6 separate regions of the Homo sapiens genome follow, and regions 2, 3, 4, 5 and 6 are each linked to region 1. Evidence: fine-mapped expression QTL. A gene starts in region 1. Each other region holds a variant in brackets. All regions are shown on one strand. Distances are between the middles of the regions.

What was found.
Region 2: its variant is fine-mapped to the expression of NCAPD3 in whole blood (TOPMed, PIP above 0.99).
Region 3: its variant is fine-mapped to the expression of NCAPD3 in whole blood (TOPMed, PIP 0.99).
Region 4: its variant is fine-mapped to the expression of NCAPD3 in whole blood (INTERVAL, PIP 0.98).
Region 5: its variant is fine-mapped to the expression of NCAPD3 in whole blood (INTERVAL, PIP above 0.99).
Region 6: its variant is fine-mapped to the expression of NCAPD3 in whole blood (TOPMed, PIP above 0.99).

The regions. Positions count from the first base shown.
Region 1 is chr11:134,222,249-134,226,335 of GRCh38, forward strand. It overlaps NCAPD3 (non-SMC condensin II complex subunit D3), which reads right to left and starts at 1,719. Exons shown (of 35, transcript NM_015261.3): 1 at 1,615-1,719. The coding sequence starts at 1,678. VPS26B (VPS26 retromer complex component B) reads left to right here and starts at 2,423. Exons shown (of 6, transcript NM_052875.5): 1 at 2,423-3,097. The coding sequence starts at 2,875. RefSeq lists enhancers at 2,160-2,209, 3,000-3,059, 3,160-3,309 and a silencer at 2,330-2,799.
Region 2 is chr11:134,154,584-134,158,670 of GRCh38, forward strand. NCAPD3 (non-SMC condensin II complex subunit D3) reads right to left here. Exons shown (of 35, transcript NM_015261.3): 30 at 3,746-3,912; 31 at 3,345-3,484; 32 at 2,435-2,512. Among named protein-coding and RNA genes, the nearest start is that of SNORD153, 5.3 kb to the left of the region's middle. RefSeq lists an enhancer at 3,167-3,668. The variant C/A (reference allele first, on the strand shown) is at 2,546.
Region 3 is chr11:134,040,304-134,044,390 of GRCh38, forward strand. LINC02731 (long intergenic non-protein coding RNA 2731) reads left to right here. Exons shown (of 3, transcript NR_027276.1): 3 at 1-1,038. Among named protein-coding and RNA genes, the nearest start is that of LINC02731, 10 kb to the left of the region's middle. The variant G/A (reference allele first, on the strand shown) is at 2,212.
Region 4 is chr11:134,260,558-134,264,644 of GRCh38, forward strand. It overlaps ACAD8 (acyl-CoA dehydrogenase family member 8), which reads left to right. Exons shown (of 11, transcript NM_014384.3): 7 at 487-622; 8 at 718-815; 9 at 1,181-1,333; 10 at 1,963-2,065. Among named protein-coding and RNA genes, the nearest start is that of ACAD8, 9.0 kb to the left of the region's middle. RefSeq lists silencers at 24-73, 1,576-1,625. The variant G/C (reference allele first, on the strand shown) is at 1,860.
Region 5 is chr11:134,272,648-134,276,734 of GRCh38, forward strand. GLB1L3 (galactosidase beta 1 like 3) reads left to right here and starts at 3,732. Exons shown (of 20, transcript NM_001080407.3): 1 at 3,732-4,087. RefSeq lists enhancers at 195-750, 2,891-3,000, 3,061-3,190, 3,341-3,390 and a silencer at 3,841-3,910. The variant A/G (reference allele first, on the strand shown) is at 2,056.
Region 6 is chr11:134,183,879-134,187,965 of GRCh38, forward strand. NCAPD3 (non-SMC condensin II complex subunit D3) reads right to left here. Exons shown (of 35, transcript NM_015261.3): 17 at 1,457-1,648; 18 at 1,025-1,122; 19 at 759-874. Among named protein-coding and RNA genes, the nearest start is that of SNORD153, 35 kb to the left of the region's middle. The variant C/T (reference allele first, on the strand shown) is at 2,483.

The DNA.
Region 1 (4,087 bases):
CTTAGGATGGAAGAAGAGGAAGAAATACATCACCTATTCACTCAACAAACACTTTGAGAAAATACTAGGGAAGCCACTTATACTTCTAGGGATATAAAGATGAATACTAGAGGGTTCTTGTCCACAAAGATCTCAACATTTCACACTTAGGATACCAAAAAAAGCAGCCTATGATAGAAGAGAGGCCACTGAATTTTGAGTCAGAACGAGGCAAATATCCTGACTTGATCACTTACACATAATTAGTCTCTCCTTCATCATTGGAAATACAGGATTTTTGTGAAACATAATGTGTATAAAGGCCCTAACAATGTGCTAGCCACATAAAAAACAGTCAATAGATGGTATTTATTATTTTTGCTATGGATGAGTGTTAAAATAATAGATATGTAAAATGTAAAATGCTACAGAGCTTAATAGGGAATAGTACTGGGGGAGGAGGGAGAGGAATAAGATGATTCTTCAATTGGACCTGAATGTAAGAGTTTTGCCAGGCAAATAAATGCAGAAAAGTGCCTCCCAGCAAGCACAGTGTAACAAAGCACACAAAGGGAAAGAAATTAAAGTGTTTCTAAATGAACAAAATTGTTACAGTGTTTGCTTGTGGGTATTAGTATCTGTTCAGCAGTTATTATGTGGCAAGTACAAATTTATCTTTACAAAAACCCCTGTGAGGTAGATATTGTACTCCCCATTTGACAGATCAGAAAACAGGGGTTTAGCAAGGATAAACAACCTGCACGGTAATACATGGATGCTATGGGGTAGAGCCAAGGGAACAATCCAAGTGTGTCCGACTCCAAAGGTTATGCTCTTGGAAAATCAAACTGGAGAGAATGGCAGCTCTTATAAAGCATGCCAAGGATGTGGTCATTTATTTAGGAAACAAAGGGGAAACATTAAAGGTGTACAGGCTTGACACATTCAAAGCTGTGTTTTCAAAAGTCGTTCTGCAAAAGTGTGGGGGATGGGCTGGCACAGTTAACATCAGAAAGCAGCTAAAATACTCCTGCAATTGCTCGAGGCTATGATGAAGGCAGCAGCATCAGGAATGGAGCGGGGCTGCCCTGAGACACCTCAGAGGCAGGACAGTGGTAGTGGGCATGAAAGGGGAAGCAGAAATGCCATGACTCCTGGGTTGGTGGCTTGGATGGTGCCATTAGCAGGCTTTGGGAATCCCATTTTCACTCATGTGACGTTTGATGATGTCTGCATGTGAGACATCCAGTGGAACCTATGAACATGAAGTTCAAGAAATAAGTCTGGCGGAAGAAAGAGATTTGCAATTTAAAACCATCTTAATAGGTAAGAATAGATAGGTGCACGAAGACACGCACAGGAAGAAGGGGAAGGCCGAGAAAACAGATGCACAGGCGCTAGAAGAGACTGGCCAACATTCGCTTATTCTAAGGGTGGCCTGGCCGGCTTGAGCCCCCACGGGAAACCTGGCTAGCCGCAATCCTGGCGTGGCACGGCCCTGGGGACCCCAGGCACCGCCGACAGCCGGGCGCCCCCACCCCGCCCCCACCGGCACCCCGGCCCGGGCTTAGGCATCGTCGGGGACGCATAGGACCCTCGCCCTGGCCCCCGGGCCTCCCGGCTGCATCTGCTCACCGAGTCTAAGATCCAGCGGACACCAGGGCTGCAGGCCGCTACCAAGGCCCCGCAACGCCACCATGATCCCAGGGCACCGGCTCGCCGCCGCCGTGCTCAACTTTCAAAGCTCGCTCCCGCGCGCGCGCCGAGTCGTTCCTGTGGACCAATCACAACGTACAGAATTTCCCACTGGCCAACCACCGCGCCGAGCCGTTTCCATTCGCTCAACCAATCACCGGCGTCGTCCGCCGCACGCTCAGAGAACTGGGCGGGCCGAAAAGTGGAAGCCAAACAAGGCTCCTGCGGGTGTTCCGCTAATTCGTTCGAGAAGGAGCCAGGGCCTGAGTTAAACCCTAACAGCGTTTTTCCCGCCTCGTTTTTCTTCAATGGGGGAAAATCTAAAGGGTATCTGAGATAGGGTACTTCCGGTAGTAACTGTCACCTTTGCCCTCGTCAGGCGACATTTCGCGTGCGTGTCAAAGGGCTGCCTTTCCCGTCAGCACTCGAACAGCGTAATATCCGAATGTGAAAGGCAGCCCAACGTGTATCGAGCTAAAGTAATAAGGGAAAAGTAGCCGAAAGCACTCCGAGAAGACAAGACAACTGCAGTTCTGTAGGGACTGCGCGGCACGCGTGGGCCCAGAGCCTGTCCCAGCGAGGTAGCAGCTGCCATGCCGACCGCTGGAGCGCCGGCCGCGCTCTCCCTGCGCATGCGCAGCGAGCTCTCCTCCGGGCTGCCGGGAGTCCCAGGAGCGTTAGGGGGTGCGCCTGCGCGCCGCTGCTCCAGCGCATCCGGGCTGGAGCTCGCCCGCCCCCTCCCCCGCCCGGAGCCGCCGAAGCGCCTCGGTGCGTTGCACCGCCGGAGGCTGGGCAGCTCGCAGCGCTGCTCGGCGCTGGACCCCACCCGGCAGGCGCAGGCCACCCACACCCGGCTCTGTGCGGCTGCCCCCCGCAGCATTGCACGGCCGACCCTCGCCCGCCCACTGCCACCGGCCGCGGGACTGGCTGGGACTGGCTCGGCCGAGGGCACTGCTCCTCGGTGCATTGCTGCTCGGGCGCCGCAGCCCGCAGCCGCCAGCCTCCCCCGGCCGTGCCCCTCCCCCGTGGAGCCGGCTGTCCGTCGGCGCCCACTGCCCGGCGGCAGCGGCGGAGCCAGGCAGCCCCGCGGCGGCCGAGCGCGCTCGCGCATCGGGCCCTCTGGCCTTCTTTACCTAGGGCAGCCCGCGCCCCGGTGCGAGGGAGCGGTCCTTACCGAGACCCGCCCGGCCCGGCGGTGCGATGAGCTTCTTCGGCTTCGGGCAGAGCGTGGAGGTGGAAATCCTTCTGAACGATGCAGAGAGTAGGAAGCGGGCCGAGCACAAGACGGAGGACGGGAAGAAGGAGAAATATTTCCTCTTCTACGACGGGGAGACGGTCTCCGGGAAGGTGAGCCTTGCCCTCAAGAACCCCAACAAGCGGCTGGAGCACCAGGGCATCAAGATCGAGTTCATCGGGCAGATCGGTGAGTCGACCCCCGGGACCCCCTCCCCCAGCGCCGACAGCCGGCCGGGGAGCAGGGTGATTCAGGGCCCAGCTCCTCCGGCGAGGCCTGTCACAGTCGCTTGTCAACTGCAGTCTGAGGCCTGGGGTTCAGCTACAAGTCCCGCCCGTGGGCGACTCCCCCTGCGTTACTGTCCTCCCTGCCAAAAGTGACAGCGCGCTGCCAGGGAGATGGGGACGGCGAGGGCGGGAGGAAGCGCCCTGCTGTGCCTCGTGGGATGGGCACCTTGCCTATGGGTTCTCCCCATTGTCTCCGGCATGCACTCGGCTTTGCTTCTTGTCCCCAGGATTTCTGGGTGAGGTGCTCTGGCCATAGCCTGCAGGTGGGTTTGTTAGGGGGAGACCGCTCTGCCAATACTGGCTTTCCCATCGCCCGGCCATCTGCAACTGCCAGACGCAAAGTGAGGCTCGTCCACCGAGCCCCACTTCCCAGAGCCCGCACCAACCCGTTTTTCTCTTTAGATGTGGTGTGAGAGAGCTAACCAGTTCTCTCTTACCTCACCTCAGCCCTGAACTACCTATGCTTGTACATGTTTCCAGAAAGAAGACCCATAATCTTCAGTCTAAATCTGACTACCTAGGCTGCGTTTCTTAGACTTCTTTATTAGAATGCAAGTTTTCAGTTACCACATTTTCTGTTTAAAGACAAAGAAATGGTGTTTCTAAAAACCACAATTAAGTGATCAGAGTTTCTCAATGCTTTAAACATGATTATTAATCATTGGAACTAGACAGCGCCAGGCACAGTGGCTGATGCCTACAATCCCAGCACTTTGAGAGGCTGAAGTGGGAGGATTGCTTGAGGCCAGGAGTTGGAGACCAGCCTGGGCAATATAGCAAGACCTGCCTCTACCCCCAAAAATTTTTTTGTAATTAGCTGGTCGTGGTGGTGCTTGCCGGTAGTCCTAGCTCCTCGGGGGGCTAAGATGGGAGGATTGTTTGAACCCAGGAG
Region 2 (4,087 bases), 68 kb before region 1:
GGTGCAGCCTCGCCCCTCCTGGGTGGTGCAGCCTCGCCCCTCCTGGGTGGTGCTGTACCCAGTGCATAAGCTGCCACCAGCACACTCCCGGGAACAGCACGGGCTGGGCAGCTGCTTGCTGGTACCACTGAACCTGCTGCCCTTCTGCAAGCACATGCGAGGAGGCAGCTTCAGAGCGCTCCCCGTTCTCCACTTGGTGTCTTGAGTATGGACTGTGTCTTCCCATTTACAGTTCAAAGCTCATCAGCGCACTGCAGCTGTGTACCCGATGGCTACTTGAGTGTCACTAATAGACGATGGTAGAGAATTCCTCATCACTGCTAGATCTGCTTATTCTGTTTCGGTGAAGTCTCTCCTTGTGCTGTCACATGAAATTCCCTTCCTGACACACACACTGCTCTTCCTGTTTGGAAGCCCATATGCACTCCAGGAAATTAGTCTCCCATCTTTACAGAAGCCCGGGTGCGGGGGCTCTGACGTCCCCCATGCACTGTGCGTAGAATCGAAGGCAGCAGCGTCTGTGCCACCCGAATGGTAACAGTAACAGGGACTTGCTAAAACCCCCACAGATTTTCAGTTAAAATCCTCGCTCTGAAAATTGACTAATTTTCATTTCCATTTAGCAAAGCCACTGTGAATTGGTGCTGAACTGGGTGGCATCTTTCCTGCCAGCTTTGAAGAGCTGAGACACTTCCTGACAGTCTCCCCCACCTAAACTAAAAGTTGCCAAAAAGAATCTGGACGTATAAACCACAGAGAAAACAGAACTGAGTGCTTTTAAACTATCTAACAGTTCTCCCAGGAAGGGGAGACCTCCAGGCATTTCTTCCTGGTTCAGTATAAAGAGAGACGGACAGAGACTGCATCAGCAGGAATATTATGTCCAAGAGCCTGGAGCAAGAACAAGTACTCTACCAACTCAATGACACCGGGCGCCTGATTTCCAGCACAAAGCGTGGCTCCACACAGGCAGATGAGGGCGGCATGAACCCTCCACGCCAGGCTGCCCTGTGGAGAAACACGAGCTGCTAGGAAACAACCCAACACTGACATCAGGGACTCAGGATGAGCACAACGAAAATGAGATGCGTTCTCCCCGTTTCTTCAGCATATGGCACCTCACTGCCAAAATAGAAGCTCTTGGCACTCCTGAGCCAGGAACATCGAACACACAGCAAGCTCTAACACACAGAACATCGCACCTGTCCACGACGCAGGATCCCAAATTACCCACTGCCTTTAATGACAAATGCCGTCATGATTCGGTTGTCGTCTGAGGGTGGGGGTGGGATAAACTCCCTTCAAAGGGGGACCTGGATGAAAATTACCTCTAACCTGTTAACTATTCTAAGAGATCACAGCATCAGTGTGACAGAACCAAACAAGCAAGTAGCTAGAATACAGCAGGTGCTCCACACACATGAGCTGACTGAAGCAGTGACTAAACGAACGGCAGGACACCTTGCTGCTCTGTTACCAGGAAGAGCACCTTAGCACGCTCTCATCTTCCCCTGCAGTCAGGACTAGGAGACAGGCTGGAGAAGGGGCACAAGAGTTGGGACCAGAAGGCCTGGGCTCAGCGCCCAGCTCTGCCCTCCCAGAAGTCTCCGGGAGGAGATCTCTGACACCTCCCAGGTTCCAGGCACTGTGGTCTGTGGAAACAGTGAGGAGTGGAATGGCCAGGGACGAGCGGGGCTGGATGCAGCTTGCTGAGGGCACTGTGCACAGCCGGGCGCAGAGCGAGGGGCACACAGGGACACGGCGGCAGGGCCTAGCCACTACTCCACAGATTTAGGACAGGAAGCATTTCTTCTTCCTGTAAGAGTTTTCTCAAAATAATGGTTTTTATGAGGTTTGACACAATATGAAGCTATCACACAAGATAATAGGAAAAGAATACTCAACTCTCCTAACTCACCTCTGTTTTGAAATCAAAGGAAAAGCACAAACAGTAGGAAAAAACATGGAGGGGAATGAGACACAGGCTCCGAGCAGGGGTCCCCGGGTCTCTGGTCTTGGCAGTTGCAGAGCGTGCATGGTACCTGCTGGTGCTGACGTCTGCCCGCCCTGGGAGCAGGCCCACCCAGCAGCGCCCAGTGCACCCGGACAGCCCAGAGACACGGAGGGCCGCCTCCAGAAGGCACCACTGGGTCAGTCACCCAACCTACCTGTGCCTCAACGGCATTGTCTGCTCCGCGGGCCACTGTGGTGTTTGACTGACTGAATGTAACGACACTGGAACAACATACTCGGTCAGTGCTCATGGATCAAGCGACCGTGGTCACTGTGAAATACTCCACCTCAGCAATGCACTCATGGTTCTGACCATCAGAACTATCCTGCACCGGAAGGAGTTTTACTGCGACTCTAGCAAACACATCACGAATGCAGGAGAGACTGAGGAGAAGCCCACGTGTTCCGATCAGTTACTCACTCTCGGGGGTGCTGATGGCCCGCTTGGTCACGTGCTCAATCTCGCCATTCGACTCTTGCTCCAAACTGTATGAAGACACTAGAACAGAAAAGGTGCTGCTATCCAGAAATA[C/A]CCCCAAACAATAACGAAGAGCAAAACAACCACATGAGAAAACATATCTGCAAGACGTAAAGTCAAAATCACTAGTGTTTACAATTTTCTTATAAAGAGGCAATTCAGGAAGAAATACAAATAAATGATAAACATGAGAAAAAATGTCCATTCTCATTAGGATTCAAAAAAATAAAAGAGTCTAACTTGGCATAAGTGATAGAGGACAGTTTGACACTATCCAAAGTTTTTAAATATCCATGGCCTTTGACTGCTGGGAATTAATCCCAAGGATTACATACATACAAGGCTATATGTACAAGGATGTTTACTGTGATAGTATTTGTATGGAAAAATTGAAAATCAACATTTCAAAGAACAGGATAGTAATAAATCAGTTATTTCCACAGCCACAATGCTATAAAGCCACTGAAAGCAAAGGTTGGAAAGAAAAGTTCATGGAAGCTGTCTACTACATCTACTACATCTGACTTAAGAATGCAGGGAAACAGGTCATAAAACAATGCACGCACAGATCACAATTCCATAAACAAAACAAAACACGTGTGTGTAAGAGGAACAGAATAGCTGGAGGAAGGAATGCCTCACTGCTATGGGTGAGTTTCATATTTCACTCTATTTTCCAAATCTCCTAGAATAAATATGCATTGTTTTACTACCCATGATCCTAAAAGCCCAATTAACGTTATTTGTTTTAAAGATAAGAAAACACACCGCTTTGAAAGGAATAAGAAGTAGCTTGTTCTGTGTTTTCATCTGTAAATGCTCTACTGTGTCTGGCACCAAACATAAGGCTTACCCTGACTGCACGTTTTTTCTGGGCTTCCAGAATTTAAAGTGAAAGGCAGCACTCCTAAGCTCCGACTCCGATGCCTGCTCTTTGACTCCACGGCTTTCTTGACAGAATTCAGGATTGCAATGGTGCTCAGGGACATGGGCCTGTGGAGAACAGCCACAGCCGCTGACTTTCTCACTGCAGACCACTGCAGAGGTGACAGTGCTGCACTGTGTCCCCGCGTGCCTCCTCACCGGCGCATCCCTCACCACCCTCATTCAAACCTCCCAGGGCACAGTGTGGAGCGGGGTGGCAGGCCAGACAATGACAATGACTTTCCTGCCCACGCTTGGGAATGGCAGGGACGCCTCTGAGAACATCGCCACAGAGAACCAGCCCTGATGTGGCCTCCAGGGGCTCTTTACCTGGCTTTGGGCAGCAACCTCTGCAATGGCCCTGTTTCAGGTGTAGGAGATGATACTGCTACATGGCCAGCACTTGCCCTGGGTGTGCAGGGCTGGCTCACGGCAGGTGACATGGCAGGGTTTTCTTGGCCAGCAGGAACTGGCACTGTTTCTAAACACAGGGCAACCTGGTAGAGAAGATAAAGAGTATGTACATTCTAATACTTTTTAAGTTTTCAAAAACGGATATATGATAGTTGTACATGGTTGGGGGTCCATATGAGATTTTGATACATGTGGACAACGTAATGATCAAATCAGGGTAATTGGCATCTCCATCACCTCAAACGTGAGTATCTTTTC
Region 3 (4,087 bases), 180 kb before region 1:
GAGTAAAGCAGATTTAGATTTCACAAAGACAGAGGTGAAGGTGGGTGAAGACGGAGGGAAGGATTTAAAGGGAAAGAGAAAGAGGAAAGATAAGAATGAGGGAGAAAGAGGAAGAGAGAAAGAAAAAGAGAAATAGAGTTATCGAAGATGACTGCAAGTCTGGCCTCTCTCAACCCAAGGAGCCAAGGAGGGGAAGGCCGGCCTGAGCAGCAACGTAGACAAGAGCTCAGGAGGGCAGGGACAGAGCCCTGGCTTCAGCAAGAGCGTGGGGAACAGAGGGCAAGGGGGTCCATGCAGCCCAGGATGGCAGGGTGCTCATACACACAGCCTTGGTCCTGTCCCCTCTCCCATTGCCGCTTTTGAGCTCACCTTGTTTAAGGCCAAAGCACACACCATCCTCCCACAGAGCCACTAATGCAATTAACAAAACACATTCATAAATCTTGCATGGCGTCCGGAGCTGTCTCCTCTCCCTAAGCACAAAGGCCAGCTCCAGAGATGCTGTGCAGAGAGCTGTCTGACCTCTCCAGCGTCAGGGCCCCCTGAAAAGTGCAGCATAACCCTTAGTAGGACAGAAAGACCATTGTCTTCTGCCAACCATTACAAAGTGGAGTGGGGCTGGGGTTAGGAAACACAGACAAATCAGAAGAGGCTGAGAAGGCGGAGATGAAAGTGCATAGGTGTTTGCAGGGAGCTGGGGAATAGTTCGTGCCTTCCAAGCTCAACAAGAGAGCATTCAGCAGAGACCAGAGAATCACCACTTTTGGAGGGTGATTTTACCTTGTGAGAACAGAGCACAGGGTGTGTGGGACCCAGGGCATCTTCGGCAATGCGGGCGTGACTTGGCGGGATGTCGGTGTTTGTGTTTGCATGTGTGTGTGCGTGCGTGCATGCTCAGTCTGGAAAACTGGTGACTCACTAAAACACCGAGCTTTCTGATCTGAAGAGCTTATATTCGGCTATTTTTAGCTCGTCTTGTCTCTTGGCCCTTTTTTTCCCCTTGTCTGTTTTCAAATGTAGAGGAGTCTGGAGACCATGAATGCCGTGTGTGTGTGTCTGCTAATTTAGAGCTTGGGCCCAGAGGTGGGTACCCCTGAAGGTGCAGAGATGAAGGCACGTGGGGTGTATGTGTGTACAGCAGGGACACACTGACACAGACAGGGTGCACATGCTCTTATTCTGGCATGTACACACGCGTACCATGCATACGTGCAAGCAGGAGTGAGGCCAGAAACGTCCCTGGAAACTCCGGCCTACACTCTCTTCACGTGGGTTGGTGTACAGCTACCCACTATGCATACTTCACAAGTATAACTGCCTCCCCACCCCAGCCCCTGCCTCACACGACCCAGGTGGGCACACTCTCATGAGGCACATGGCCACAGGCACAGTCTGGGCCTATCTTGGGGAATGGCCCCAGCCCCTGTGCCTTGTTTCTTCTCTGTTCAGCCACTCTTCCAAAAATTATGACTTCTTCTCAAGAAGGCCTTTCTCTGCTGGTTGGCAATAGGAAACACGAAGTGCCAGCTTCTGCACTTGGCTTCTCCTGGGACTCATTCAGCTGATCCCACCTGCCCACCACCATTGGCCGAGACCGCCTCCCCAGTCCAGTGGTCATCCAGCTACAGGGGGTCTGGCAACTGCTTAGAGAGGCCAGGCAGGGGTCAATGCTGTGTGAGCTCCGTTCCTCTAGCCGGGAGAGAGGGAGAAAGGAGAGCGAGCTCGGATTGCCATCTGCCTAGGTGCAGTGTGGGGCAGGCGGGGAGCGGAGCTCGGACTGCCGTCTGCCTAGGTGCAACGTGGGGCAGGCAGGGAGCGGACAGCACTCTTCAAGGCTCTAGAACGCTGGTGGGTTCCTGGACCTTGACTCTGTGTGACAGGACTGTGTATGCAACCCAGTGTCAAGAGCAGAAATGCGCAAATGCTGCCTATGACCAGTGCCTCAGTGATGCGGCACGCCTGGGAAAGGGCACCCACAGCCTCTCTTTCCACACAGCACACATGCTGTGCACTCACGCACAGCAGCACGTGCCTGCATGCACACACTCTTAGAAGCCTGCGTGAGAGAGAACACGAGCCTTCGTTACTCCAGACACCAAAGCAAGCTCTGAGCTGCATCATCCCTCAAGTCTGCAGTTTAGGCATGGCTCAGAGGCCCCAGCCAAGGCGGCCAAAACCCAGCCATGTGTTGCTCCTTAAGCCATGTCTTCT[G/A]CTGAGAGTCTGCGTCAGCCCAGAGGAGGGGCCCTCGGTCTCCCTTGCCTGCCGGGAGGCCCTGTGGTTCCTGGTGTCCAGTGGGCTCAGCGTCACGTCCTGGAAGGAGCCACTACCCGCCTACTGCCCCACTGCATTCCACTCCACACACATTTGGGGATCCAGCGCTCTGTGCAAGGCACTCCATGTCATCATGATGAAGGAGGACCAGCCGGAGTCCCCACCCCCAGACCCCTGCCCCAAGATAGGCTGGCACAGAATAAGATGCCTGCACAATTAGCCATTGCAGGACTCGTCACCCAGGGTGTGTGTGGTCATGAGCCACGCAGAAGGGATAATTCTCTCTTCCTCCTGGGGCCTGGGGGCCTTCACAGAGAACAGGACAGGGGCTTTTGCCTGGGCCCTGAATAATGAACAGATCTCCCCAGGCCAAAGAGGAACTTCTCAGGCAGGGAACTGGCCTGCATGAAGGTGTGGGATTGGGAAGCGTGGACAGGGGCTCGTGGGGAGAAATCAGATCTTGCCAGCAGACAGACTGGAGCTCAAGCCTGCCTGACTTGCCTCCGGTTCTGTGGCTCTTGCCTGAAGGAGAAGTGATTTTGAATTATCTACCTCTCTTCTTACCCCACATGGAAGGAAAAAGTCTTTTTATCTTGAAAGATCTGGACTCCTTCTGCCTTCTGAGCATCTGTAAGATGGAGATACTAATAGGGCCTTCCCTATAGAGATATTTTGAAGATTAAATGAGAGACCTCATGGAAAGCTGTTAGCACAGAGCTGAGTAAGTAAGCATTGTCATTAGTTATTATTATCCTATTTTATAGGCTACCACAGTGATTCTCAACCGATTTTACCCCTCAGAGGTCATTTGGCAATGGCTGGAGACATGTTTGGTTGTCACAACTTGCAGGAGTGGGAGGGAGGCTGCTCCCCGCCCCTGGTGGGTAGGGCCAGGGTGCTGCTAAGCACCCACCATGCACAGGGCAGCCCCCACAGCAGAGCAGAGCCCCCCCAGAATGCAGAGAGCACAGAGGCTGAGAAGGCCTGGGCTGGGGGGTTTCACCTTCTCCTGAAGACAGTGCGGTGACCACGATTTTCAAGCAGGGAATGACATCATAAAATCTAAGTTTCAGAAAGAAAAATCTGGCAACATTGTGACATGTCTAGAAAGCTCAGCCAGGGGCACTGCAGACCTGCAGATGAGACCGGGGGGAAGGAGGGCTGGGTCTGCAGCAAGACCAGGAGGCCGCACATTGGCAAGAAGAGAGCAGGAGAACCTGCTGAGGGCTAGAGGAAGGAAGGGACAGGCCTGGGGCCACTGGAGGACCCTAAAGTTTCCAGCGCATGGACCTGAGCAGATGGTAGTGCCGCCTTTCAACAGCATAGGAAGAAAAGACTCCATTTGGGAACTGTGTCCTCCAGGGCCCAGGTTGGGGGAAGCTCCTCCACCAACCTGTACGTGAGCCATGCCCCTCCAGTCCATCTGCTCCCACTCAAGGGGGGACCACCCTTCAAGAGACCCTCACCCAGCCCATCAGTGCCCAAGAGAGGCAGGCATCCAACTGCACCATCTCCCTCTCCTTCCCCATGCAGCTCCCTCTGAATGATGATCAGTGAGGCCCTGCAAGACAGCCTCCCGAGGCCGAGCCACCGAGCTACAGGACGAAGATGATCTTTCTGGGCTCCTGATGTCCAGACCCTGTCTTGTCTTTCAGCATGTTCAGAATACCTGTGGCTGCTGTGGGCAGAGAGGAGGTACCGGGGAAGTCCTGGCAGACTTATCTATCGGCAGAGAGACTGAGTCTCCATGCCACCCCAATTCCCCCTGCCCTTTTGACTGAGCTCTGAACACAAGTTAGAGGAGCTGGGGGAAAGC
Region 4 (4,087 bases), 38 kb after region 1:
GCTTCTACTGTGTGTGAAGCCCATGCTAACTCCTGGGCAGGAAGACCTTCAGTAAAAGGCTTAGAAATGGAGTTTATCCTATCAACAAAAGAGAGCAAGGAAATGATGTAAAGGCAGTCTATTTTCAGAGCCAGAGAGGAACTGGGAGATTGTAGATAGTTTGTGGTTTTCAATTAGAGGCACTGAAATTGGGGGCAGTTGGTGTCACAATCCTAAAAGAAGTTGTGAGAAGTGTTTGTAGGTTAGTCAGGTAGAGTAGACATTAGTAGATTCTCTTAATAAGTTAGAAAATGTTTAGCTGAAACAGGTATCTTTCTGAGTGCTGACAGGCCTTTAAACCTGAACTTTTTCTTTTTCCTCATTTTAAGTTCTTGTGGGTCTAAGTCTTGGGTGCTGAAACCCATACCTCACAGGCTCCCGTCCCCAGGGAAGGCCGCCCTACCTGCTGGATTGTTGGGCAACCACGCAGTCCCTGATTTTTGCCAGGTGGGGTGGAACTCCCAGCCAACACGAGCTGTGATCTTCGAAGACTGTGCTGTCCCTGTGGCCAACAGAATTGGGAGCGAGGGGCAGGGCTTCCTCATTGCCGTGAGAGGACTGAACGGAGGGAGGATCAATATTGGTGAGATACGCAGGGGTGTGGCAGGGAGGTAGCGGTCCGGGACAGGCACTGCTGTTTTCCAGCTTGGTTGGAACGTCGGCGCTCTTCCCCTCTAGCTTCCTGCTCCCTGGGGGCTGCCCACGCCTCTGTCATCCTCACCCGAGACCACCTCAATGTCCGGAAGCAGTTTGGAGAGCCTCTGGCCAGTAACCAGGTAACCTCTGCCTTGCCTCCACATGGCTTTGCACTATTTGCAGCCCGGGACCTGCTCTAGGGCCCACATTTCCAGGAGAGAAGCCAGGAAATTCCTCTGTCAGTCCCACCACTGTCCTAGCCAGAGCTTGTGCTTTATTTCTGTCCATCTTTTCTTGGGATATCTTTAACGATATTAAAGTGTCGGGTGAGTGAAGTGGACTTAGCACTTAAAAGCAATAAATTTCCTCTATAGAAAAAGCAAGAGACTTTGAAGCTTTGGATCACTTAGAAAAGGCGCCTCCGAGATGTCTTACCGAGGCTCCTGCACCAGGTGCTGGTCTAAGCCCCTCAGTCTTGTCTGGTTCTCTGCTCCCTGTGCTGCAGTACTTGCAATTCACACTGGCTGATATGGCAACAAGGCTGGTGGCCGCGCGGCTGATGGTCCGCAATGCAGCAGTGGCTCTGCAGGAGGAGAGGAAGGATGCAGTGGCCTTGTGCTCCATGGCCAAGCTCTTTGCTACAGATGAATGCTTTGCCGTAAGTGATTCCTCTGGCTCTCCTGGGATGGACAGGGAACAGCTGCTAGGCCCAGGGGTCTTGAGAGACATGAGTCAGATTTGGAACCCAGCCCTCCTGGAATCCCACAAGGATCACCTTAAGCTTAAGGATATAAATGAACTCATGAGCGGCCTATGTGGGAGCTCTCATCGCTGGCTTTTAGGCCTGCTGCATGCCATTATACACTTCATTATGTCACTGTTGTTTGGTTGTGTTCTAGGCGAGAAACCACCTTTGGAAGGTTCACAGCAGCCCCAATTTAGCACTCTGCCATGTTTACATTGTCAGGCTGCATTGCCACTAGGGGGAACCATAGCTTTTTATCATCCCAGCCAGGGTGGCTGTGGGCAGCTTCTGCCTGGCAGGTAATAAGGGAGAGGGGCAGAGGGCTTTGAGTCGCCTGTCTGGGGGGAACTGACAAGTTTAGTAGGTGAACTTCCCTTGTCTCTAACCATACAGAATGTGGAGGCCCTCTTTGAGCTTGGCTGTTTGTGGTTCTTTCATG[G/C]GTTTATGGCGGGCTGCCAGATCGTGGGCTGGGGTAGGAAGGGAAGCTGCTTGCTCCACAGTCTTCCCAGAGTCCAAGACGTCTAGTCCCTGTCTCCCTGCAGATCTGCAACCAGGCCTTGCAGATGCACGGGGGCTACGGCTACCTGAAGGATTACGCTGTTCAGCAGTACGTGCGGGACTCCAGGGTCCACCAGATTCTAGAAGGTAAAAATTGCCAGAGGTTATTCTCTTCCCTTCAGAACGGGGGCGGGATCGCTGCTTTCCCCACTCTCTGTCCCCATGCCTCCTGGGCCTCAGGGTGCAGTCAAGCCCTGTCTGTCTCGAGGCTTCCTCCTCCCTCCCGTTCCGCAGAGCTGTTCTGGCAGGGGCCTGGAGTCCAGAGCCGCAGCTTCGTCCCTTTCGGGGGGCCTCAGATCGCTCTGCTGCTGCCCTTTTCCTCTGGAGATCTGCGAGAAGGGTGAACTGAGATAATGGATGAGAAAGCATGTTGAAAACCACAGCCGGGGCTTTTCTCTAAGGTTATCGAGTACGTGGTTCTCAGGGATCCAAGAACAGTGATGGACAAGGCAAATGTGAGCCAGTATGGTCATCAGTAGCTCTATATTGATTATCAGCCAGATGGCCTAAAAGATACCTGTCTCAATATTACTAGTGTATTTTTCAATAAAATAAACCATCACTATATGGGTATCTTCTTGGTAGTCACAGACATTCTATCGAGGAAACATGGAAGCCGTTGGGGTCGGGCTCGGAGCCTGGCTGTCTCCACTCTCTACAGCCAGTGCGGAAGTCTTGAAATGACACGACTCTTGGAAAAGCAGGAGGGGCAGAGGCTTCTTTGAGTGACTTCGGTGAAGCAACGTGAGGCTGCCTTGCTGGAAACATTATATAATGGGGCTTCCCTGCCCCTTTCACAGCACCCTTCTCAAACCTCAGCCTGTGCTGGAATCGCCTGGAGGGCATGGGAGCGCAGATTGCGGGCCTCAACCCCAGAGCTTCTGCTCCAGAGGGTCTAGTGTGGGCCTGGGAATTTGTATCTGCAACAAGTCTTCAAGTGAGGCTGCCACAGCTTGTCTGAGAACCACACTTTGAGACCCACCGCTCTGGTGTTAATGTCAGAGTCACAGGCTACCACAGGTTAGACCGCTGCTTTCTTCTGCAAACCTCATTCCAGAAAGATGTTTATGGGCTCAGTCGCCAGTGTTCAAACTGAATTCCCGAGAGTCGTTTTCCTTCCATTACTCTTGGAATTGCTTTCTCACTGAGCTTTATGTGCGTAGGAAACTTCGCCTTCATTCTAACTCTCTCTCCACCCTGCAATAATAAGCAGGAAAACATTTATTGTAGGCCACACCATCACCCACTTACAGAAGAATTGGGGCACTCATCACTGTATCACTTTGTTTCATCATGGACTTTACTGTTGGATAAATCTACAGTTTATGCTTTATTTGAGACGATGTGACTACTGATTCCTCGAGGGGGTTTATATTTCTTTTTGCATTAAAGGCCACTGCTAAAAATGAAGCAAATAATTGATACCCTCCTTTCAGGGAAAATGTTTTCATTCTTTTGTAAGTCAGTTTTCTGATTACCAAAGAAATGTGTATTTATTGTTGAAACCTTATAAAATTAGGAAAAGTAGGCTGGGTGCGGTAGCTTATGTCTATAATCGCCGCACTTTGGGAGGCTGAGGCGGGTGGATCGCGTGAGGCCAGGAGTTCGAGACCAGCTTGGCCAACCCGGTGAAGCCCCGACTGTCTAAAATTATAAAAAGTTAGCTGGGCGTGGTGGTGCATGCCTGGAATCCCAGCTACTCGAGAGGCTGAGGCAGGAAGATCGCTTGAACCCAGGAGGTGGAGGTTGCAGTGAGCTGAGATTGCACCATCGCACTCCAGCCTGGGTGACAGTGAGACTCCATCTAAAAACAATACAAAAAATTAGCCGGGCCTGGTGGGGCCTGGTGGCACATGCTTGTGGTCCCAGCTACTCAGGAGGCTGAGGCAAGAGAATTGCTTGAACCTGGGGGGCGGAGGTTGCAGTGAGCCAAGATCACACCACTGCACTCCAGCCTGGGCGACAGCAAGACTGTCTCAAAAGAAAAGTAAAAGAAAAAAAATCACTCATGTTTCTACATCCAGAATGTTATTTTGGTACATCTCCTTTTAGGCATTTTACTCTGCCTTTGTTGGTACATTTTTAATTTTAATTAGAATTATCCTGTAT
Region 5 (4,087 bases), 50 kb after region 1:
TAGTTTCCTCACTGATAAAGGAGGGATACTAATGGTACCCGCTTTCTGGTGCTGTGAGAGTTAAGAGACAATAGACAGAAATGTCAAACATGCAGAACTGTGCCTGGCACACGAGTGCTTGGTAAATGTCAGCTATTCATAACAGAGGAAAAAACCTGATGAAAATAAATCACTTTTGGATAAGGATTTTAATATTCTTACAGACACTCCCCATCCAGCTCTTAGCTCAATGGATCAGGTTATCTGCAAGGACAGCAGCCTCTTGCTGGGTGCCCCATGGAGACAGCGATCTTCCCTCCTCTCTTACCTTCTCAAGGGTGGCCCTTTTCCATCACCAAGGCTGCACTCATGCAGAGAGGAAGCCTTCCCCCCCGACCTGATCAGGCTGATTAACTTCAACTCCCAGGGGAGAAGACTCTTGAGAACACACTTTAACCTTGGGTTCTCACCTGGAGCTCCGCATGATTTTCCATTTCCTTAACTAATGAATGCATCTAGCAGACTCAGTCCATAAAAAAGGCACATTTGAATGATAACAGCCAGAGCCCGGTGGCCGAGCTGGGCTGCCGCCTGCTGAGCAGCTCCTTTAGAAAGGCCTGCACTTGAGCGTTAGTTACCCTGTGGAGGGACAGGAGGCCGGCTGCTTCACTTCCCTCTGCTGGGAGTGGCCCTGCGTGATGGGGTGCATATCCACTTCATTTATTTTTTAATCTGTGGGAGACAGGTTATCAATTTACTTAAAGTTTGAATGTCTGTAAGGATGAAATTTAAAGCTAGGGCTCTGAAGATCTCTAGCAGGGATGTATCTGTCATCTACCTATCCCTCCATCTCAGCCTGTGAACTGCGTGTCATCATGGGTTAAATTAATTACTAAGAGACCACGGAGTCCATTTTATAGCTCAAATGAGCATTTTTCATTTCCTGTAGTAAACATGACTTAAGTAAACAAAGAGTTTCTCTAACAAGGATGGCTTACAAGTAGAAGTGGCTAAATTTTCACTTTTATAAATTTTGCTGCTTTTTATTAACTATCAATAAACCTAGAAAGATGATCTTACAAGTAAACAACAGATTTTGCATACTTTAACCTTAAAGATATCTCTGCCTCAACTCTTTGTTCACAGCTCTCTGACACTGGAATATTAATAGTTGATAATCTTTCCCTTTAATTTTTCACTGATAATATTAGTTCCTAACCCAGGTTTTTGGATCTCACAAGGGTTCTTATTATACAGTTGTCACATACATTTCTTTAAGAAGTTCAACCTAAGAAGAAATCAAGAATTGTCTTTTCTGGTTCATACATTAACTCCTATAGGGTTGTCCACTACTAAAGCAACAGAAAGTGCTGCCTTCTTTTTCTGGAAGCTGCTGTTCTTACAAGAGAGCAATTTAGGAGCAGGAATTGTGCTTTATTAACATCAAAGCACTGGCACAGGAAGTTTGCACACTCAGCTCTGGGAGCTTTTTGATGCTTTCTGCCTGCTTTGGGAAATTAGCTCTTTGTTTCATTATCAGTTATCTGGATGGAAACTGAAGGGAAAAATATTGATTTTTTTTTTTTTTTTTAATAAATTGTACCAGGATGCTGGGTCTGCGGCCCTAGTGGCTGGTCTTTCCTGTGCTTGGGATGTTGGCCTTGTAGAGTTACTTCTGTAATCTCAAGACAGAAACTGACAGCTTTGTTTGATCAAAATTGTTACTTCACCTTGCACATTTTCAAGAGTTCTACAGGTTTAATGAGCACAGAAATCTGGGGGAACTTTCACTCTCCAGGGCTCCTTCATAGAGGTTCTCAAATACTCCATCAGCAGAGGGGAGCCCCAGATGGCAAAAGGACACAGGATATGTCATCTTTCAAATGAACCAATAATCCATTATTTGATTCTTCTACCTTTGTCAAAATTCCTCCAGCAACGCCTGCAGAAAATCACAATTCTTGATACATAGCTTGTTCCAATAAAGCACCACAGCATTTCTAGTGACTGCAGGCCCAGCTGTCAAACTCTTTCAACTTGATAGAGAATATGTACACAAAACCTATAGCTGTCATC[A/G]TACTTAATAGTGAAAAACAGAATGTTTTCCAGCTGACACTGGGGACAAGGTAACAGTGTCAGTTCCTGCCGCTCTTATTCAACACAGAAATTTTAGTCATCATACTAAGACACACAAAAAAAGGAATAAAAAGCCACGCAGACTGGAAAGGTAGAAATAAAACTCTCCATATTTGCAGATGACATGATTATCTACATGGAAAATGCCAAGTAATACACAAATAACCTCTTAAAATTAATAGGTGAGTTTGCCAAGGTCACAGGATATGAGATCAACATGAGAAACACAATCACATTTCTGTATGCTAACAACAAACATGTAAAAACTGAAATAAAAATAATAACAGTTTAAATCTCTTGAGAGCAAAGGAAATATTTAAGTATAAACCTAACAAAACGTGATAGGATCTGATGTTGAAAAAATCACACAATTCTGATGAAAGAAGTGAAAAAAAAAAAACTATTTAAATAGACAGACATACCATGTTCGTGGGTTGGAAGATTCAACATAATAAGGATACAATTCTCAATTTGATCCATAGGTTGATTGCAATTCCTCTCGAAATACCAACATGGCTTTTTGTAGAAACAGACAAGTTTATTCTAAATTTTATGTGGGAAGGCACAAGCCCTAGAATACTTTAAACTTGACAAAGAAGAATAAAGTGTGTGGCTGTAAAACCAAACTGTAAAAAATTAACAGTTCATTGCTTGCAGTCGAAAAAATGAGGAAAAGATGGACGATCTAGGAAACTTTCAGGGAGCTAAGGTGTCGGAGAGCAAAGTATCCTTGTAAGGAATGAGACAAGATAAACTCCCTCCCCCACACACAGTATTTTCAGAGAACTACATTCTTGGTTTCAACCTGATGTCATAGGCTGTGTTCTTTGCAACGGAAGAAGCAAAGACTTCAAAGGGAGAAATCGGAAGATTTCTTTTTTCATCGTAGGGACTTCACATCAGCGTTTCCAAAACCGAGTCCATCGCCTTTTCCCTCTGCGCAGCCTCTATCCCTTCCTGTGTTTCGCATCTCAATAAACGTCCCCGCCAAGTGACTTCAGCCTGAAACATGCGGCCTCCCGGACTCCTCTCTGTGTCACCGACCTCTTGCGCTCAGTTCTCCGGAGCTGCCGGTTTAACCTCGCAAGTCTTCCCGGAACCCGTGCCCTCCTCCTGGGCAGCGTTACCACCACGAGCGCCTACCTGAGAGGACGCCTGTTCTCATCCAGCCTCCACCCTGCAGCCGAGCAATCTCCGTAAAACGAACACCTGGCTTAGTTTCTGCTGGAAACCGTTGAATAGTCCCCACTGTCTTCTGGAAGGGTCTGGGCAGCTCGGCGTGGCGTCCACGGCCCCACCAGGCCTCTGCCTCCTGCAGGTCCCGCTACTTCGTCACCAAAGCGCCCGCCGCGCTCGCATCTGCTGTGAGGCTGTGCTCGGGCCGCTCCCGCCGAGGGAACGGCCCTCCCAAGGCTCTGCGCCCCAATTCTCGCTCGTTTGCCAAGAGGTAGCCGTGTCGGGGAGCTAGAGTTCTCCGGGGACTCTCTCCTGCCCCTCGTGGCCCTCTGTGGAACCCTCGTTTTAGGATCTGCACGCCGTTTCCAGTCGCGCGCGCGGCACGGAGACCGCCCGCTGTGCCCCGCGCTGCGCTCTCTCCGCCCCTCTCCCGCGCAGGCCTCCCTGTGCCAGCCGGCTGTCGACCCAGGTTAGGAAGCCCGAGGTCGGGGCGTTACCCCAAGGGCCCTCCCGCTTCCCCTCCGAGGGCAGAGAGGCGTCCGCGCCCGGACGCACTGCGGGAACACCTGGAGCGCCGGCGGAGCTCGGCTGTCCCCGCGGGAGGGAGCCCGACGCGCATCCTTGGGACCCGGACCCGGCGCCCGCGCCTCGGGACGGATTTCTGCCTCGGCTGCAGGCGCAGCGCGCAGACCTGAGCCTGCCCCGCGGAACCGGGGCTCGAGTCCCGGCCCGAGCGCGGCGTCGGGGCCAGCGGAGAGGGGCGGAAGCCGCAAGGGACCCTCGGCGCCTCGGCCTG
Region 6 (4,087 bases), 38 kb before region 1:
TTTCTTTTATTCTGGAAAACTTAAATATATCCCAGCAATTATTTAATTTTTGTTTTCTATAGCCATTATTAATAACCCCAGCTCTACATTTTTTCATTATGATTGGTACTAAGAGTATATCTCATGATAAAAACAGAATAAATATATGGTAATAAAATTATTTCTTCAGTTACTGGTATGCATACCTTTTAAGGAGTCAAAGTACCTCTCTGCCTCCCATAAATCACTGATGTGGATTTCTGTTTATATAAAAACACTAGCTGTGGGCTATAGGCAACTGTGGGGACACGATACCAACAAGAGATATTTGAGTAGTGTAACCTCATAGTAACAGGACAGGCATGTCCAAGATTATGACTTATCAGAAGGTCAGAAACCTGTTCTGGAGGGAACTTCCTGCTTAAGTGGAAAATTGTCTATAAGTGTTCTTGGAATGAGAGTGGAAGTCAAGGAGAAAGAGAACCTTGCAGAATTCTCACCAGGAAATGACAATCAACAGGAATGCTTACCTAAAGACACTCGCACCTGCGATCAAGGTGGTGACCATCTAAGGGTGCCGTGTCTCTTAGGCAGCTAAATCTTCTTGGGGAATGTCAATTGCTAGTTATGTAAACCTTGCCTTGTTGCGGCAATAGCTGCGGGGGACATCCTTACACGTCCTCTTATTTATAGAGAATGCTCCTCACACTTCAAAACACATACAGTAACATCCTAAGCTCAAAGAAGTCAGAAACATGTCAGGGAAAGTCTGGCCATACCTGCTCCTCTGCTGGTGTCTCTGCAGATGCTCTACAAAGCCTCTGCAAGGCGTCAACAGCTGAACTGATCACCTCTAGAGACCACTGAAATCCATTCAGCTTACACTTGACAGCATCTATGAAGGAAGTCAAAACCCCTGAAGTTCAACTGCTTAAATATATTCAGGTATATATACACACACACACACACACACACACACACACACACACACACCTGAAATGAACAGCAATGCATTTTCACATAAGATTCTCCAGCAGACACTCACCAGTCACTTTGTCCCGGGTGCTCTTAGGAAGATGCTTTGCAATATGCCCAATCACACAGAGAATATGTCCTAAGGTGTTTGAATTGGGATTCTGCTGACTAGAGAAAGGGCAGGAGGAATATGAAGGGAGAAGCAAGTTAAACACTGCTGCCAACAAAGGCCTTTCTTCTGGATTAATAACACTGGAGGAAGCAGGGTAGGTAGCATGGCTTAGGAGTCAAGCTGTGGGAACATCAAGGCATTTAATGTACTTGGACAAAGGGGAAATGGGTGAAACATGATTCTTATTTTTTTCATGCTTGTTTTTATACCAGGTTTTAAACAGAAGGTCTCTGTATATGAATAGCTATGAAAAAGCTCACTTCCTTAAGTCTTGGGCTTTGTTTCTAAGACTCTTCAGTGTCATTACTGGTTAAATTAGAAGATACAAACCTGCTGATTTTCTCCCAAGATTGTATTATTCTGCTGTAGTCCAGCCTGGGTGAGGAGCCAGCAATCTTGGAGAGCAGCATCCAGGCAGGTGCCGAATGTTCCGTGCCAGTGTGAGATATTACATTGTTTATAAAAGTGGGTGAGAATTTTTCTTTCTTGGACCAGATATGAAAAGCCTTATTTAAATATCGGCTGGAAAAAAAAAAGATAGAAAAGCAGAATTGCAACTGTAAATATACAAAATGATTCAGATGGGAGCCTCACTGAAAGGGTATCAACTTCTGCTGCTCCAGGACTCAAGTGGCACATGAAACTTATATGTAGACGTTCCTAATTAGTGGCGTGTCTGATACCAAACTAGGTATCTTTTAAATTTTTATTATTCTACTATCAGTTATATTCATTTTTCCCCTCATAAAATATTCCTTAAAGTAAAGAATAAAATTTCACAATTCATTTCAGACTCTTCTTATCCTCCTCCCCTCCAAAATTTCTACATAACTGCATGGGGTCAGTTACAGATACATCCAGAGCTTACACAGTTATAGTGACAAAAATTAGTAACATTGTCCTTTTTTTTTTTTTTTTCTTGAGATGGAGTCTCGCTCTGTCGCCCAGGCTGGAGTGCAATGGCGCGATCTCGGCTCACTGCAAGCTCCACCTCCCGGGTTCACACCATTCTCCTGCCTCAGCCTCCCGAGTAGCTGGGACTACATGGCAGGATTGTAAATGACAACCTAACAATTAAATATGATGATATTAAATGAGCTAAAATATGCAATAACTTAATACCACTCAGAAATAGATATTTCAAACCTTTTCAAAATAAAAAACAATGCTTCTGATGTACTAAAGTGTTTGTGTTATATTACTAGTTTTTGAGACAGGGTCTCACTCTGTCACCCAGGCTGGATCACAGTAGTATGATCACAGCTCTCTGTGTAGCCTCCACCTCCTGGGTTCAATCAATCCTCTTCCCTCAGCCTCCAGAGTAGCTGAGACTACAGGCATGGTCACCATACCTGG[C/T]TAATTTCTCTCTCTCTCTCTTTGTCTGTCTTTCTTGAGACAGGGTCTCACTATGTTGTCTAGACTGGTCTTGAACTTCTGGGCTCAAGCCATCCTCCTGTCTTGGCCTTCCAAAGTACTGAGATTATAGTTGTGAGCCACTGTGCCTGGCTGTCACTGTTGTTTTAGAACTATCTCTTATTTTACTTCTTCCCAAGTCACTGAATGGGATCATATGATTCATGAGACAATGCCATATTATATATTTAAATGAAGAGAAAAATACACTTCTTCCCTTGATTAATTTTTCTTAGACTTCTGGGAAAACACATACACATACATACCCACACGCGAACATCAGGAATTCCTCATTAAACTGTTTTTAGAAGGGAAATTCTCAAAACATACAGAATAAGGTAACTGTAACAAAATAAACACATCTATATACCATAATAAGCATATGCATATAAATGAAGTTTTGCTAATATATCAGCTATTGATTAAAAATCCATCCACAGATGTCAAGTCTTACTACAGTTAGCTTACAACATGATTTATGTCTGATTTATGTCCAAATACCACAAGATATAAGCAATGAACAAGTATTTTTAAATTTATTTAAAAATAACGATATAAAATATTAAGTAATGTTTATTATATGTAGCCAACAGAATTGGGAAAAAATCCTCTGAACTTGCAGAAATCTCAAACTTGGCTCCTCTTTGACAACTCCCAGCCCTCCACTCCCAGCCAGCCTCCCAGCCCAGCTGAGGGCCACAGCCATTCCCCACCTGGGCAGACTGTGACCCAACACACTAACTTCTATCTTAGTACCAAAACCAACGGCCATGCTTCAGGCCCGTCTCCATGGCCTCCACCAGAGGTTACTGACTACTCTTGCGCTGAGACTCTGGTCCACCAGTTGGATCTCTTTTCATCTCCTGTAACTAATTCCTGTCTTCTAATAACTAATTGCTGATTTGAAAAGCTCTATTCTTAGTCCTCTTATCTCCAACCTAACTCTGGGTGACCTCATGCATTACCAAGAGCTCCCAACTGAGGTGTGACAAAGCATTCAAGTTGAAGCTGGGCTTCCATCTCCAGCACTCCCTCTGTCCTCAACCTGCCCGACTTCTGCTCTCCACACCTCAGTCAACAGCAATTGATTCAGGCATTTTCCTGAGATTTCATAGAGCCTTCTGGCCTCTGAGCTTTTGCATGACTATTTCCTTTCTGGTAACCCTTACTACTCTGGCTGCTGAATTCCTACACATTCCCAAATATTCTACCCACGCCACTACTTCTGGGAAGCCACCCTAAGCCAGAAGAAGAAAGAAAGAGGACAAAGAGGAAGAAATAATCACCAAAATGCCAGGTGCCCTTCCTCTGTTCTCCTGTAGCTCCCTTTCCACTAAAATTGTGACTTGCTTTTGTCTATTTCACTAGACCAAGAGCAACTGGAGGAGAGGAAGTGCACTGAACTATTCTGTGAATCTCCAGCACTTAGAACCAGTCCTGGAAAATGAAGTCCTCAAAATATGTTTGTTCAGTTGAATAAAATATTTCCTCTTCCAACTCCTCCAAACCTCAGGCTCAGCTTTCATCACCTCTACCATTCCCTCCTAT